3 separate regions of the Homo sapiens genome follow, and all the other regions are reported to be linked to region 3. The links are microRNA targets in miRTarBase. Many come from high-throughput screens and were not tested one by one. Region 3 holds a microRNA gene; each other region holds the end of a gene's coding sequence.
Evidence for each region. The annotated mature microRNA hsa-miR-637 reads ACUGGGGGCUUUCGGGCUCUGCGU and lies in region 3 at 1,977-2,000, shown strand. An mRNA with a match to its seed (bases 2 to 7 or 8) in the 3' UTR can be bound and repressed. Matches are read on the target gene's strand: a 7mer-m8 pairs with bases 2 to 8, a 7mer-A1 pairs with bases 2 to 7 and ends in A, and an 8mer does both.

Region 1 (4,063 bases), not on the chromosome of region 3:
TCTGAAGTATACCCCACCTTGGGCCCCCTCTGGAGCAGCCCCCCATCAGGTGCACAGACGCCCCTCAGAGCTCAGTGCCTCTGAGGCTGGGCCGAAAGGTGGAGAGGAGCTTCCTCCCGAGCTGCCCCTCCTTTCCCAGGCCCTGCCCGTGGACCGGAAGCGAAGCCAGGAGCCCAGCCGCCCGTCCCCTACGCCCCAGGGCCCACCTTTCGGGGGTAGCCGCACCCCCAGCACTTCGGACATGGCCGAGGAAGGCAGAGTGGCCAGCGGGGGCCCCCCAGGGCTGGAGACCTCGGAGTCTCTCAGTGACTCACTCTACGACTCGCTGTCCTCTTGTGGGAGTCAGGGCTGAGGGGCTGCGCCACGCCACGGCCCCGCTGGAGCTGGGGACCACAGACTGGACCGGCTCTCTTCATGCCCAGCCCCCGGAGACGGGGACCCCTCCCTGAAGGGACCAAGGAGGCAGGTGGATAAGAAGGTGAAAAGGGGGTCCCTGGCACACCCCACCACCCACTGCTTCGGCGGATGAGATGACCGTGCTCAGCTCAGGGAGAGACCCCGCCCTTGGTCCCTTCTCTCACCCAGAGTAAGGCTCTTCCTGGAAGGGACTGGGGGTTAAAGGCCACTGTGTCGCAGCCCTCCAGTCCCTACTTCAGGCTGAGCCATCTTGTGGTGCTGGGCTTCCTGCCCACCAGCCGTGCCATCTCTGCCCAACCCGGCTGCTCCTCTGCCCCGAAGCCCTCGCGAGGCCCTCCTGGAGGCCCCCGTGCTGGTGGAGTTTGGGGGCCAGGGGGACAAGTTGCCTTCTCTCTCTGCCCTGGTCCTCCCTGCTGTCTGGATGGTGCTGCCCTCCTCTGCCCCATGCCTTTGGGGTCTGTTCGTCCGTCTTTTTTGTTGTTGTTTTTATATATTGAAGCGCCTGGCCCAGCCCCCAGCCCCCAGCCCCGCACTGCGGTTAATTTATGTGTTGTTTAAAATGCGGCTGCTCTGCTTCCTGCCTCTGCTTCTGCCGTATCCCTAATAAAATGTGGAGGCCCCCTCCCTGCCCCTGAGTCGGCTTGTTGTGTGGGAGGACTCAGGCAGGCCAGGTCGGGGGACACTGCATGGGTGCCAGGTTGAGGGACCCCAGGCCCCCTTGTGACACAGCCCCCTCACCAGGGCAACTGGCTGGAGTCATCCCAGAAGGTAACTGAGGGTTGGGAGAGTAGGGCCTGCTTAGGCCCGGAAGGGTATCTGGGCTCGGAGAGATTCTCCTGGGCCAGGGCTTGGGCACGGCGCGAGGCTGGGTGGCCCCTTGGAGAGGGAGCTGGGGAAGATGGCTGTGGACATGCACTCAGGCCCCACGTGTCCCAGGCTGGGGGGGACATGCAGACTCTGAGTAGAGTTGCATCTCTTCTCCAGACCTTGGTTTTCCTCCTCTATAGAAGATTAGAAAGTTAATCCAGACGAGCTGGTCCCATCAGCCAGACTTTCTTCTCAGCATTCTCCTCTTCCTACCCCTTCCCCAATTCTCTTCCTACCCCTTCTTAGTTAATATCATCATTGAAGAAATTAACAAGACGGAGAGTGTCAAGTCAGATGTCTGGGTTTTTTTTTTTTTTTTTAAGTCAGTATCCCATTTTCTTACCTCTTGTCTTCTACTTCCAGATTCCTATCCCACTGTCCTATCTTTTCTGCTTTTATGGGCTTAAGCATAATATTACCAAGCTGTAAATCTGCTTCTTGCCAGGTGGGCTTCAAGAGGTCTACCTCCTTCCCACTTTTTATTTCTTGGTTTTTCAAGCCCTCTTCTCTGCTTGAACTTGGTAGATTACCTCATTTCCTAGTTAGAACAGAATTGTTTGCCTGCAGGATATTTCTCCTATTTCCTTCTGGGGAAGGAGTTTGGCATAGTAGGTTTGATGCAGGACTCCACCTCTTTCAAGCTGAGACCAGAGGGTCCATCCGCATTCTTACCACCAGGGTCTGATCCATCTGCCTAGGCTTTATTCTCTGGTGTTTGCAAATACAAGGCGTCACCTTGGTTTCCAGGGCAATGTGGGCTGACTGACCAAGGCAGGGCAGGTGGCATCAGTCACACCTGACGCCTGGAGGCAGCCATTGCCTACCAACTGTTCCATGGTGGGAAACTTCCTAAATCCCCCAGCATTCTGCTAAGAGACCCTGGATCCAGATGAGCCACCCCACAGCCTACATAATTGTGTGCCCTTCACACAGACCCAGTATTTTATCTAAAATGATTCTGTGGAGGAGGACATGCAGTTGAGTTTAAAGACACTCCTGGGGAATCAATTTCTTGCACTTCAAAGAAAGGTTAGGCTAAAAGACCATTTGATCCTTACTAAGGCAGAACACTTCATATCTCAGTTTGCAACATCTTCCTGCAGAATTCAGGTAAATTCACTGTTTTCTCCAAGAATAATAGGTGAATGTTTGCCTTTGCAATGTGCAAGACCCATTCTGCTGGATTTTCCAAACAAAGGAAGACAAAACTGCCAGGCCACCTCCCCCATCCCCCAAAATGGCATCAAGGCATCAGCAAAAGATTATGACAAGGCTTCAGGTTCAACTTCACTGGGCACTTTGCCTTTTGCAGGAAATGTCCCAAAAACATTAACTCAAGTTTTCTCTGGGTAGCCAGTGGGTTTTTTTTTCCTTCTTTACCCTTTTGTAGATTTCTACAAATAGTGTGCTTTGTTTTCTTTAAAAAAAAAATTTTTTTTTGTAGAGATGGGGTCTCACTATGTTGCCCAGGCTGGTCTCAAACTCCTGGCCTCTCCAAGTTCTGGGATTACAGGTGTGAGCCACTGCATCCAACCTGTTTTGTTTTCTTTATCAAAAAAAGTTTTAAGGCCGGGTGCAGTGGCTCACGCCTGTAATCCCAGCACTTTGGGAGGCTGAGGTGGGTGGATCACGAGGTCAGGAGATCTATACCATCCTGGTTAACACAGTGAAACCCTGTCTCTACTAAAAATACAAAAAACTAGCCAGGCGTGGTGGCACGCGCCTGTAGTCCCAGTTACTCCAGAGGCTGAGGCAGAAGAATTGCTTGAACCCAGGAGGCGGGCCTTGCAGTGAGCCAAGATCGCGCCACTGCACTCCAGCCTGGGCGACAGAGTGAGACTCCGTCTCAAAAAAAAAAAAGTTAAAAAAAATTTTTTCCCGAGACTATAGAAATGCTCACCTGTATTAACTTCAAATTCATGTGGCCTTAAGTAATTTATTTATATGCTTGAACTAACTCACACAGGATTACAGAATGAGGGTATATATCTAGAGTTTGCTGCAGAGAATAATTGTTTCTCGTTTAAAACTTTTTTTTTTATTTTTTTGAGACGGAGTCTCTCTCTGTCACCCAGGCAGGACTACAGGCTCCTGCCACCACACCCGGCTAATTTTTTGTATTTTTAGCAGAGGTGGAGTTTCACCATCTTAGCCAGAATGGTCTCAATCTCCTGACCTCGTGATCTGCCCACCTCGGCCTCCCAAAGTGCTGGGATTACAGGTGTGAACCACCGTGTCTGGCCCCTTAAAAGGTTTTTAATTGTTAAAGGAATAGAAATTATAGAAGTATATGTTCCCCAGGCACAATGGCTCATGCATGTAATCCCAGCACTTTAGGAGGCCGAGGCGGGTGGATCACCTGAGGTCAGGAGTTCGAAACCAGCCTGACCAACATGGAGAAACCCCATCTCTACTAAAAAATACAAAATTAGCCAGGCGTGATGGCACATGCCTGGAATCCCAGCTATTCGGGAGGCTGAAGCAGGAGAATCACTTGAACTTGGGAGGCGGAGGTTGCAGTGAGCCAAGATTGCACCATTGCCCTCCAGACTGGGCAACAAAAGCAAAACTCTGTCTCAAAAAAAAAAAAAAGAGTATATGTTCATGGTTTTTAAAAAAAGGAATTGAAATTGAATGTTATAACTAATTATCAGGGAAATGCAAATCAAAACTGCAATGAAATACCACCTCACTCTAGTTAGAATAGCTCTTATCAAAAAGACAAAAGAAAACAAGTGTTGGTGAGGATGTAGAGAAAATAGAACCCTTACACACTGTT
Region 2 (4,063 bases), not on the chromosome of region 3:
CCGGCCTGGCTCTCCTCCAGGACCTCCTGGCTCAGGGGCTCGAGGCCAGTCTTGTGCTGGCTCCAGGGCCTGGGCCCTGCCTTTTAAAGGGCTTTTCCCCATAGGCCAAAGCATCCTGGGCCCCAGTCCCTGCCGCATTCCCCCAGTGAAGCAGCTGCGCTTCTCCAAAACCATTTTCACCTCTTCAAAAAGGGGCCATCCCCCCAACTCTGTCCACCTCACACTGAAGTTGGGGACTTGATCATCACCTCTTCCCAGATCATAGGAAGGATGAGGCTCATTTTGACCTTGACCCCTTTGCAGGGTGAGAACAAAGAGGGGTTGTGGGCAGCTGGGGGCCCCAGTACCAGCAACCTTGACCCCCCACCTGGTACTGGGCAGCTGCTCTGACACCAGCAGCGCTTTCTGAAGAGGGCTTGCTACCCAATACACCCATTTCACAGAAGGGCAAACTAAAGGTCAGAGTGGGCACCCAGACAGGGATGGGTCCCAACTTACCGTCTCAAACCAGAGACACCAGACCTCACCGGTTTCCTATGATACTTGGGTGGGGAGGGGGCGCACTTAAGGGGAGATGACGGATGCCCCAACCAATATTGAACGTAGGAGGAGATTGGGCTTTGGGGGTTATTTCACATACAAAAATAAAGCAAACCAGATTGCAACTTCTGCTTGGTAATTAGGCAAATGGAAAGCAGCAAGGGTGGACGAGGGGCCCATGGAGGCTGATCTCCCAAGGGAGGCCGATCCGTGCAAGTGTGTGGGAGGCGGGGGTACTAGAGAGGGGAGGAAGGAGGCTCCACTCACCCTCGGTCCCATCCACTCGGGCCCCCATGGGCACTGCCCACCTCAAGGCGGTGTGCCTGGTGCCTCTTCATGCACCAAGGCTGGCCCGGGCTGCTCCACTTGGAGCTCAGGCCAGCAGAAGCAGACCACCTGTGGCAAGGGAAATGCATTCCCTCTCCCCAGCCACCCCCAGGGGCCCAGCTTCTTGCCTCCTGAAGCCTGCATCCCCTTTCAGGCCAGGGAGGCTCAGAGAGGTTGTGGGCTTTAGGGTGACCCGTGGGGAGGGAGGTCTCCCCCATAGGGTGGCGGTGGTGGGGACCAGATGGCCCAACAACTGGGAAAGGAACAGAAGGGGGCAAGAAACCAAACTGCCCACTCACCAGCCCCCTGGAGAAAATCACCAGTGACAACCCCCACCCTCCCAAACCTCAGCTTGCCGGGACCTGCAGCTTGGGTTAGCTCCCGGGGGCCCGCTGTTGTCCTTCCCTTTGAGCAAGCACGGGTGTGGAGATCTGGGTCCAGGCCCTCTCCACAGTGCCTGCGATGCCAGGGGACCTGCCAGCTGGGCCCAGGCCTCCGCCCCATCCTGACATTGCCACCTCACCTGTGCAATCACTGCGTTACTATTTTTTCTTAAATAGCTCTTTCTCCCCCGCCACCCCCCCATAGGAATCCCACAATATTTTTTTCTATTTCTTTTTTTTTTCCTCTTTTTTTGTTTTTGTTTTTTTGCAAAACTAATTCTTTCACTTTCCTGTCATAAAATCACCTCTGAAAACACAACTTCTTTACAAAAAAGTCACGAATGACACGAACTCTCAGGAAAACACATTTCTATGGTCTCTGGAAACACCTGTAACTGGCACCCAGGTGGTCACTCACCTGGGGGAGGGGGTCAGGGGGAAATCACCTCCAAGGACAGAGGAGAAATACCAGCCCTTATTTGGGCGAAAAGCCAATTGGCACTTGGACGGCCACAAAGCCAACACACAGGGCAGGGTAGGGAGGGGCCGAGGAGTATCAGCCCCCGCCCCAACCCTGCGAGGGTCCCCGTTCTACATCCCGGGGAGGGGAGGGCTAGGGCCACGCTGTGGGCCCTGGCAGGGAGATTGGGAAGGAAGGCAGCCTCCCATTCTTAGGACCAAAGGCGCTAGGGTTCTGATCGGCCTCCTGCCAACGTGCTTCTGAGGGAGGGGCCCATGGCAGCACAGCCAGGAAGCCAGCTCCAGCCACGCCTGGAACACGCCACCCACGCACAATGGAGACCCGGGAAGTGGCCCAGGGCTGGCCAGCGGGGCCCCGGTCCCAATTCTGGGACCAACACCCTCATTCTCCTGGAGAACACAGACCCTCTGGTCTCCCCTTTGCCTGCCTGCCCTCCCAGGGCCTGGCCTAAGGCTGGGGCTGTGGCCTCTGCCACTGGCACGGGTGCCTCAGCTCCCAGGCAGCAGAGGGAAACAGAAGCTGCCCAGGACACGGGAGCCTCCTTTGCTTCAGGCAGGCTGGGCTGTGAGAAAGCCTCCGTGGTCAGAAGCAAAAGAGGGGCTGGGACAAGCCGGGAGGCCCTCGGGAATGGATTCTTCAGCATCCTCCCCAAACACCCGGAGGAAGAGGGAGCTTGGAATGGGGTCTCCCTCTCTATCTCGGTCCCCACCATGATGTGAAGTGAAGGTCCGACAGGTTGGGCTGACCACCCTGAGGAGGGCAGGGGGGTGGGGGGCACGGTGCCCCCAGCACACCTGGGCCAGGAGGGGAGGCCTGGTGACTTCCACAGCAAACCTCCAGACCCAAGCCTGGTCCCCAGGCCTACTGAGGCGAGAGGCAGTCCAGGCCTTCAATGCCCCTGTTCAAAGGAACTGTAAAGGGTGCCACCCGGCAGCCTGGGGCCTAGCACCCAATGCATGTATGAACCCACGGACAAACACAGCGAGTGGGGCAGACGCACAACTGGAAGTTTCCACGGCAGGTTCTCGTAGCACCTTTGGTCAAGAACTGAAGGGGCCTTTAGATGCGGGGAGGCTGTGGCCAGGCGCACCCTCTGCCAGTTCCTCCCACCGTTGAGGGGGTTAGGAAAGAGCCAGGGCTGGGGCAGGGCATAGGGGGTCTACTTAGGCCTCGTCCAAAATCGAGCAGGGAAGACCCCGCCCTGGCCCAACTTCTGATGCCCTGGCTGATGTGGAGGGAGGAGCCGAGTCAGGCCTCATCCTTGGCCTCTGCCTGGGACTTTGCCAAACAGGCAGGAAGCCCTCCTCCTGCCTAGGCATCTGCAGGAAGGAAAGGGACTGTGTCCACCCTCGGTGGGGGGCTCCTAAGGGCCCCACAGCTGCCAGGTTAGCACCGAGAAATCAGACGCCGCACAGGAGAGCAGGAAGCAAGCTAGAGAGACAGGTGGGATGTGGAAGGGGCAGAGGAACCCTAGTTTCTAGGGCTTTCCAGAAACCACCCAGTGGGCTACCATGCATGGGCAGGGGGTGTGCCCTTCCCCTGCCCCATTCCAGGGTGGCCCCTACCCCCGGCTTTCTGGGACCCCAACTACCCAGCCCCATCCCTGGGTCAACACCGAGCCATTTGAGACAAGCAAAGCACAGGGAGAGAGGGCTGGGGGCAAGGGTGGGGTGGGAGCAAGAGTATGACTTCGGGCAGGAGGGCCCCCCCAAGCCCCCCTCCTTGGTGGAGCCCCCTCACTTGCTCGCCCCAATGCTGCCACCGCCCCCAGCGGCGCCTGCTACCCCAGCAGCCACCTTCTCGAAATCCTCAGGGTTGCAGAATTCCTTGATTGTGACCGTCAGGAGGTTGCTGGTGACATCGGTGACGACCACATTGGAGCAGGGTGACATCTCGGGGCGCCAGTCCCCAGCCTCGGGCTCGGAGGAGGCACCGGCGGGCTCAGGGGCCGTGGGAGGTGCCGGGCCGGCAGCAGCTGTGACCTCAGGCGGTGCCCGCTTGCTGGTGGCTGCCGACTCGGGAGGGAGGGACAGGTCGAGCACCTCCGGCTCGCGCCAGCTGGGGGCGGATGGGCTCACGGTCTCGGGGAGGAGCTTGGGGGGCGTGTCGTCGGGGTCAGAGGACTGTGGTGTAGGCGAGGGGCAGCCGGAGGAGCCAGAGCTGCGGGCGTCGTAGGGGGCGGCGGGGGCGGCCAGAAGTAGCCCAGGGCCCGGGGCTGAGGCCTCAGCCTTGCCGGGGGACGGGGCTACCAGGGGGGCGGGCGGAGGCTTGTACAGCGCAAAGGCGCCGAACTTCATGTGGCGGATCTGTGTACGCAGGACGCTCTCGCTGA
Region 3 (4,064 bases):
GAGCAGGCTCCGGGTTGGGGGTCGTGTGTGCTCCTGTCCCTCTGGCTGCTAGGGAGCCCAGCCTCCTCTCGAAGTGCAAGGAAGGGGTCCGACCCCACGCTGGGTTTTGGCTCCTGTCCCTGGGCCACACGTGGGCCTGCTGTTGTTTATTATTTTTATTTGTTGAGACGGGGTCTTACTCTCTTGCCCAGGCTGGAGTGCTGTCCTAGCTCACTGCAGCCTCCACCTCCCAGACTTAAGCAATCCTCCCACCTCAGCCTCCTGAGTACCTGGGACTACATGTGCACACAACCATGCTCCCATGCTCGGACTTTTTTTTTTTTTTGATGGAGTTTTGCTCTTGTTGTCCAGGTTGGAGTGCAGTGGTGCGATCTCAGCTGCTCACTGCAACCCCCACCTCCCAGGTTCAAGCGATTCTCCTGCCTCAGTCTCCTGAGTAGCTGGGATTACAGGCGCCCACCACCATGCCCAGCTAATTTTTGTATTTTTAGAAGAGACGGGGTTTCACCATGTTGATCAAGGCTGGTTTTGAACTCCTGACCTCAGGTGATCTGCCTGCCTCGGCTTCCCAAAGTGCTGGGATTACAGGCGTGGGCCGCTGCACCCAGCTGGCTAATTTTTTTTTTTTTTTTTTTTTTTTTGAGACAGAGTTTCGCTCTTGTTGCCCAGGCTGGATGAAGTGCCAAGGCCCCGTCTCAGCTCAGGCTTACTGCAACCTCTGCCTCCCGGGTTCAAGTGATTCCCATGCCTCAGCCTCCCAAGTAGCTGGGATTACAGGTGCCTGCCACCATGCCTGGCTAATTATTTGTATTTTTAGTAGAGACGATGTTTCACCATTTCGGTCAGGCTGGTCTTGAACTCCAGACCTCAAGTGATCCGGCCGCCTTGGCCTCCCAGAATGCTGGGATGACAGGTGTGAGCCACCGTGCCCAGCTGGCTAATTTTTAAAAGTTTTTGTAGAGGTGGAGTTTCACTGTGTTGCCCAGCCATATTGAATGGGCATAGCTCATTCAGTAAGCAAGGAAATAAACAATGGCGTGGGCCCAGCCCGCTGTAGTGCGTGAGCGGACCCAAAGGCTTCAGGAGATGGGCTAGACCGTTTGTATTCTTTTTAAATGTTCAGATAATTCAGACTTACAAAGGAGCAACAGAAACAGCACAGACGCCCCCTGCAGCTTCCTCCTCCTTCAGTTTACATTTTTCATGAACACGAACGTTATGAACACCAAGACGTTAGCCTTGGTGCTACGCTAATCACAAAAGTGCTAGATGGGCCGGGTGCGATGGCTCACGCCTGTAATCTCAGCACTTTGGGAGGCTGAGGAGGGCAGATCACGAGGTCAGGGCATTGAGACCATCCTGGCTAACACGATGAAACCATGTCTCTACTAAAAATACAAAAATTAGCTGGGTGTGGCAGCGGGTGCCTGTAGTCCCAGCTACTCAGGAGGCTGAGGCAGGAGAATGGCATGAACCCAGGAGATGGAGTTTGCAGTGAGCCGAGATCGCGCTACTGCACTCCAGCCTGGGTGACAGAGCGAGACTCCGTCTCTAAAAAATTTAAAAAATTTAAAGTGCCAGAGGTGGTTAGACACCCCCGTTTTCCACTCCTGTCCTCTCTGAGGTCCCCACACGGCATTTAGCCATTCAGCTCCTTCGCCGCCTCCAGTCTGAGGCTGTTCCTCTGTCTGGCTTTCATGACCTTGACCCTGACTTGTGCTCACGGGTCAGGTGTTTTGCAGAAGGCGTCTGAGTCCACGTTTAGTCTCGTGCGCTGTCACGATCAGACGATCAGACGGGGCTTCAGTGTCTCTGCTCAAAACCCCAGGGATGATGCTGTGTCACCCTCCCAGCGTCAGGCTGGGAGGCAGACGCTGTTGGGGCCTCTCACTGCCGGGCTGTTGACCTTGATCCTTTGGCTAAGGTGTTGGCTCGGGCTCCCCACTGCAGTTACCCTCCCCTCGGCGTTACTGAGCACTGGGGGCTTTCGGGCTCTGCGTCTGCACAGATACTTCGAGTCTCCAAGGAGACTTCTGCCTGTTCATTTCTGCTGCTGTCAGTGGCGGGGTGGGGGGGTGGATTTTGAATGCCTCTTGGGTGGTGTCTGGGATCGTTGCAGGAAGGTTCTAAGGGCTCAGGAGTGTGAGTGGCCCAGGCACCTGCCGTCAGCCTGTCTTCTGTGCTCCGCCTGTCGTGGGCAGCCGGAGAGGCGGCGCGGCCGTGGTGGGAGCCCAGGACCCCACTGAGCCCCCACGCCTGTCTCGCAGCCTGAGCGGTGCATCCCCGTTCCTGGGCGAGACCAAGCAGGAGACGCTCACCAACATCTCAGCCGTGAACTACGACTTCGACGAGGAGTACTTCAGCAACACCAGCGAGCTGGCCAAGGACTTCATTCGCCGGCTGCTCGTCAAAGATCCCAAGTACGAGGGGCCGGCAGGGGGCACGGGGTGGGACATGGGACACAGGCCCACTCCACCCACGGAGGCTCCAGAGGACTCTCCTCCCAGCGCCACCTCCCTGCGGCTGGGGATCAGACATTGCTTACCCCTTGGGCTGGAGAGAGTAAACTGATAAACTGGTGGCCCAAGCTGGCCATTGCCATGGTTTTTTTTTTTTTTTTTTTTTGAGACGGAGTCTTTTTTTTTGAGACGGAGTCTTGCTCTGTCTCCCAGGCTGGAGTGCAGTGCAGTGGCGTGATCTCGGCTCACTGCAGCCTCTGCCTCCCGGGTTCAGGCTATTCTCCTGCGTTAGCCTCCCAAGTAGCTGGGATTATAGACGCCCGCCACCACGCCTGGCTAATTTTTGTATTTTTAGTAGAGACAGGGCTTCACCATGTTGCCCAGGCTTGTCTTGAACTCCTGACCTCCTTGGTTTGTGATTTGCCTGCCTTGGTCTCCCAAAGTGCTGGGATTGCGGGCGTGAGACACCGTGTCTGGCTGCTTGCTGTGTTTTTAGCAAACTTTTAATTAGTTGCCGGTGTGTAAAGTAAGGATCCATGTAAAATTCCAGGTCACTTGTTTTCCTGTAAACACTTAGAATTCTGGCAGTGCTGAGCCCTCACTCGTAGGCCTCCCCGGGCCTCCATGGCCGCCCAGTCCCTCTCTCGGGCGCCTGGGTTTGCGACTCCAGCCTGAGGTCTCAGCTCTCTCCACCACCCCCCAGAAAACCCCACGCTCCCTGCAGTACCCTTGTTCAGCTTCTGTGGTTGGCTGAGCAGAGGCTGGGGGGCGACTTTAGGGCTTTTGGGGGTCCCGGGAGTCAGTTGTTCACGGGAGGACGGGACAGATGGTGCAGGTGTACCTAACCAGAGCGGGGGTCTTCCAGGCGGAGAATGACCATTGCCCAGAGCCTGGAACATTCCTGGATTAAGGTAAGTGGGGAGGTGGGGGAGCTCCCTGGGCTTCCCGCCTTGGCCTTCTCGCTGGGGTCCCGGGGGGCCTTCAGCATTTAAGGCTTGTGGATGTGACAACCCCCAGTGGCTGGGGAGGGTCCCCAGAGGAGTGAGCCTGTGTGGCGGGGGTTGGGTCCTGGGCGTGGGATGTCCAGCACCCGACAGACCTGGTGGCATCCTTGGCTGGTGTGTGTCCAACGGGGCTGACTCCTGGGGCCAGGGCCGCAGCGTTTTTCTCGAGAGAGCACTCTCGGCTTTGCGTCGGGCTGGGCAGTCTCCGTCACGAGGCGTTGACTCTGCTGCCGGATGAGCCCCTGAACCTCAGTTCACACTGGCAGGTGGGGGCTGGCGGGGCTGGGTGGCATCGCGGGGACCCCGCTCAGGCTTCCCTCCTTCCTAGGCGATCCGGCGGCGGAACGTGCGTGGTGAGGACAGCGGCCGCAAGCCCGAGCGGCGGCGCCTGAAGACCACGCGTCTGAAGGAGTACACCATCAAGTCGCACTCCAGCTTGCCGCCCAACAACAGCTACGCCGACTTCGAGCGCTTCTCCAAGGTGCTGGAGGAGGCGGCGGCCGCCGAGGAGGGCCTGCGCGAGCTGCAGCGCAGCCGGCGGCTCTGCCACGAGGACGTGGAGGCGCTGGCCGCCATCTACGAGGAGAAGGAGGCCTGGTAC

Region 1: the mRNA of NCKAP5L is a reported target of hsa-miR-637. Seed matches in the 3' UTR shown: 7mer-m8 at 929-935 and 7mer-m8 at 936-942.
Region 2: miRTarBase lists CBX6 as a target of hsa-miR-637. Seed matches in the 3' UTR shown: 7mer-m8 at 3,385-3,391, 7mer-m8 at 1,669-1,675 and 7mer-m8 at 332-338.

What each region holds. Positions count from the first base shown.
Region 1 is chr12:49,788,128-49,792,190 of GRCh38, reverse strand. It overlaps NCKAP5L (NCK associated protein 5 like), which reads left to right. Exons shown (of 13, transcript NM_001037806.4): 13 at 140-1,039. The coding sequence ends at 352. Among named protein-coding and RNA genes, the nearest start is that of NCKAP5L, 38 kb to the left of the region's middle. RefSeq lists an enhancer at 602-1,444.
Region 2 is chr22:38,862,742-38,866,804 of GRCh38, forward strand. CBX6 (chromobox 6) reads right to left here. Exons shown (of 5, transcript NM_014292.5): 5 at 1-4,063. The coding sequence ends at 3,468. Among named protein-coding and RNA genes, the nearest start is that of CBX6, 7.4 kb to the right of the region's middle. RefSeq lists enhancers at 1,311-2,190, 2,191-3,068, 3,187-3,998.
Region 3 is chr19:3,959,365-3,963,428 of GRCh38, reverse strand. It overlaps MIR637 (microRNA 637), which reads left to right and starts at 1,917; the gene lies at 1,917-2,015. DAPK3 (death associated protein kinase 3) reads left to right here. Exons shown (of 9, transcript NM_001348.3): 7 at 2,268-2,420; 8 at 3,325-3,370; 9 at 3,792-4,064.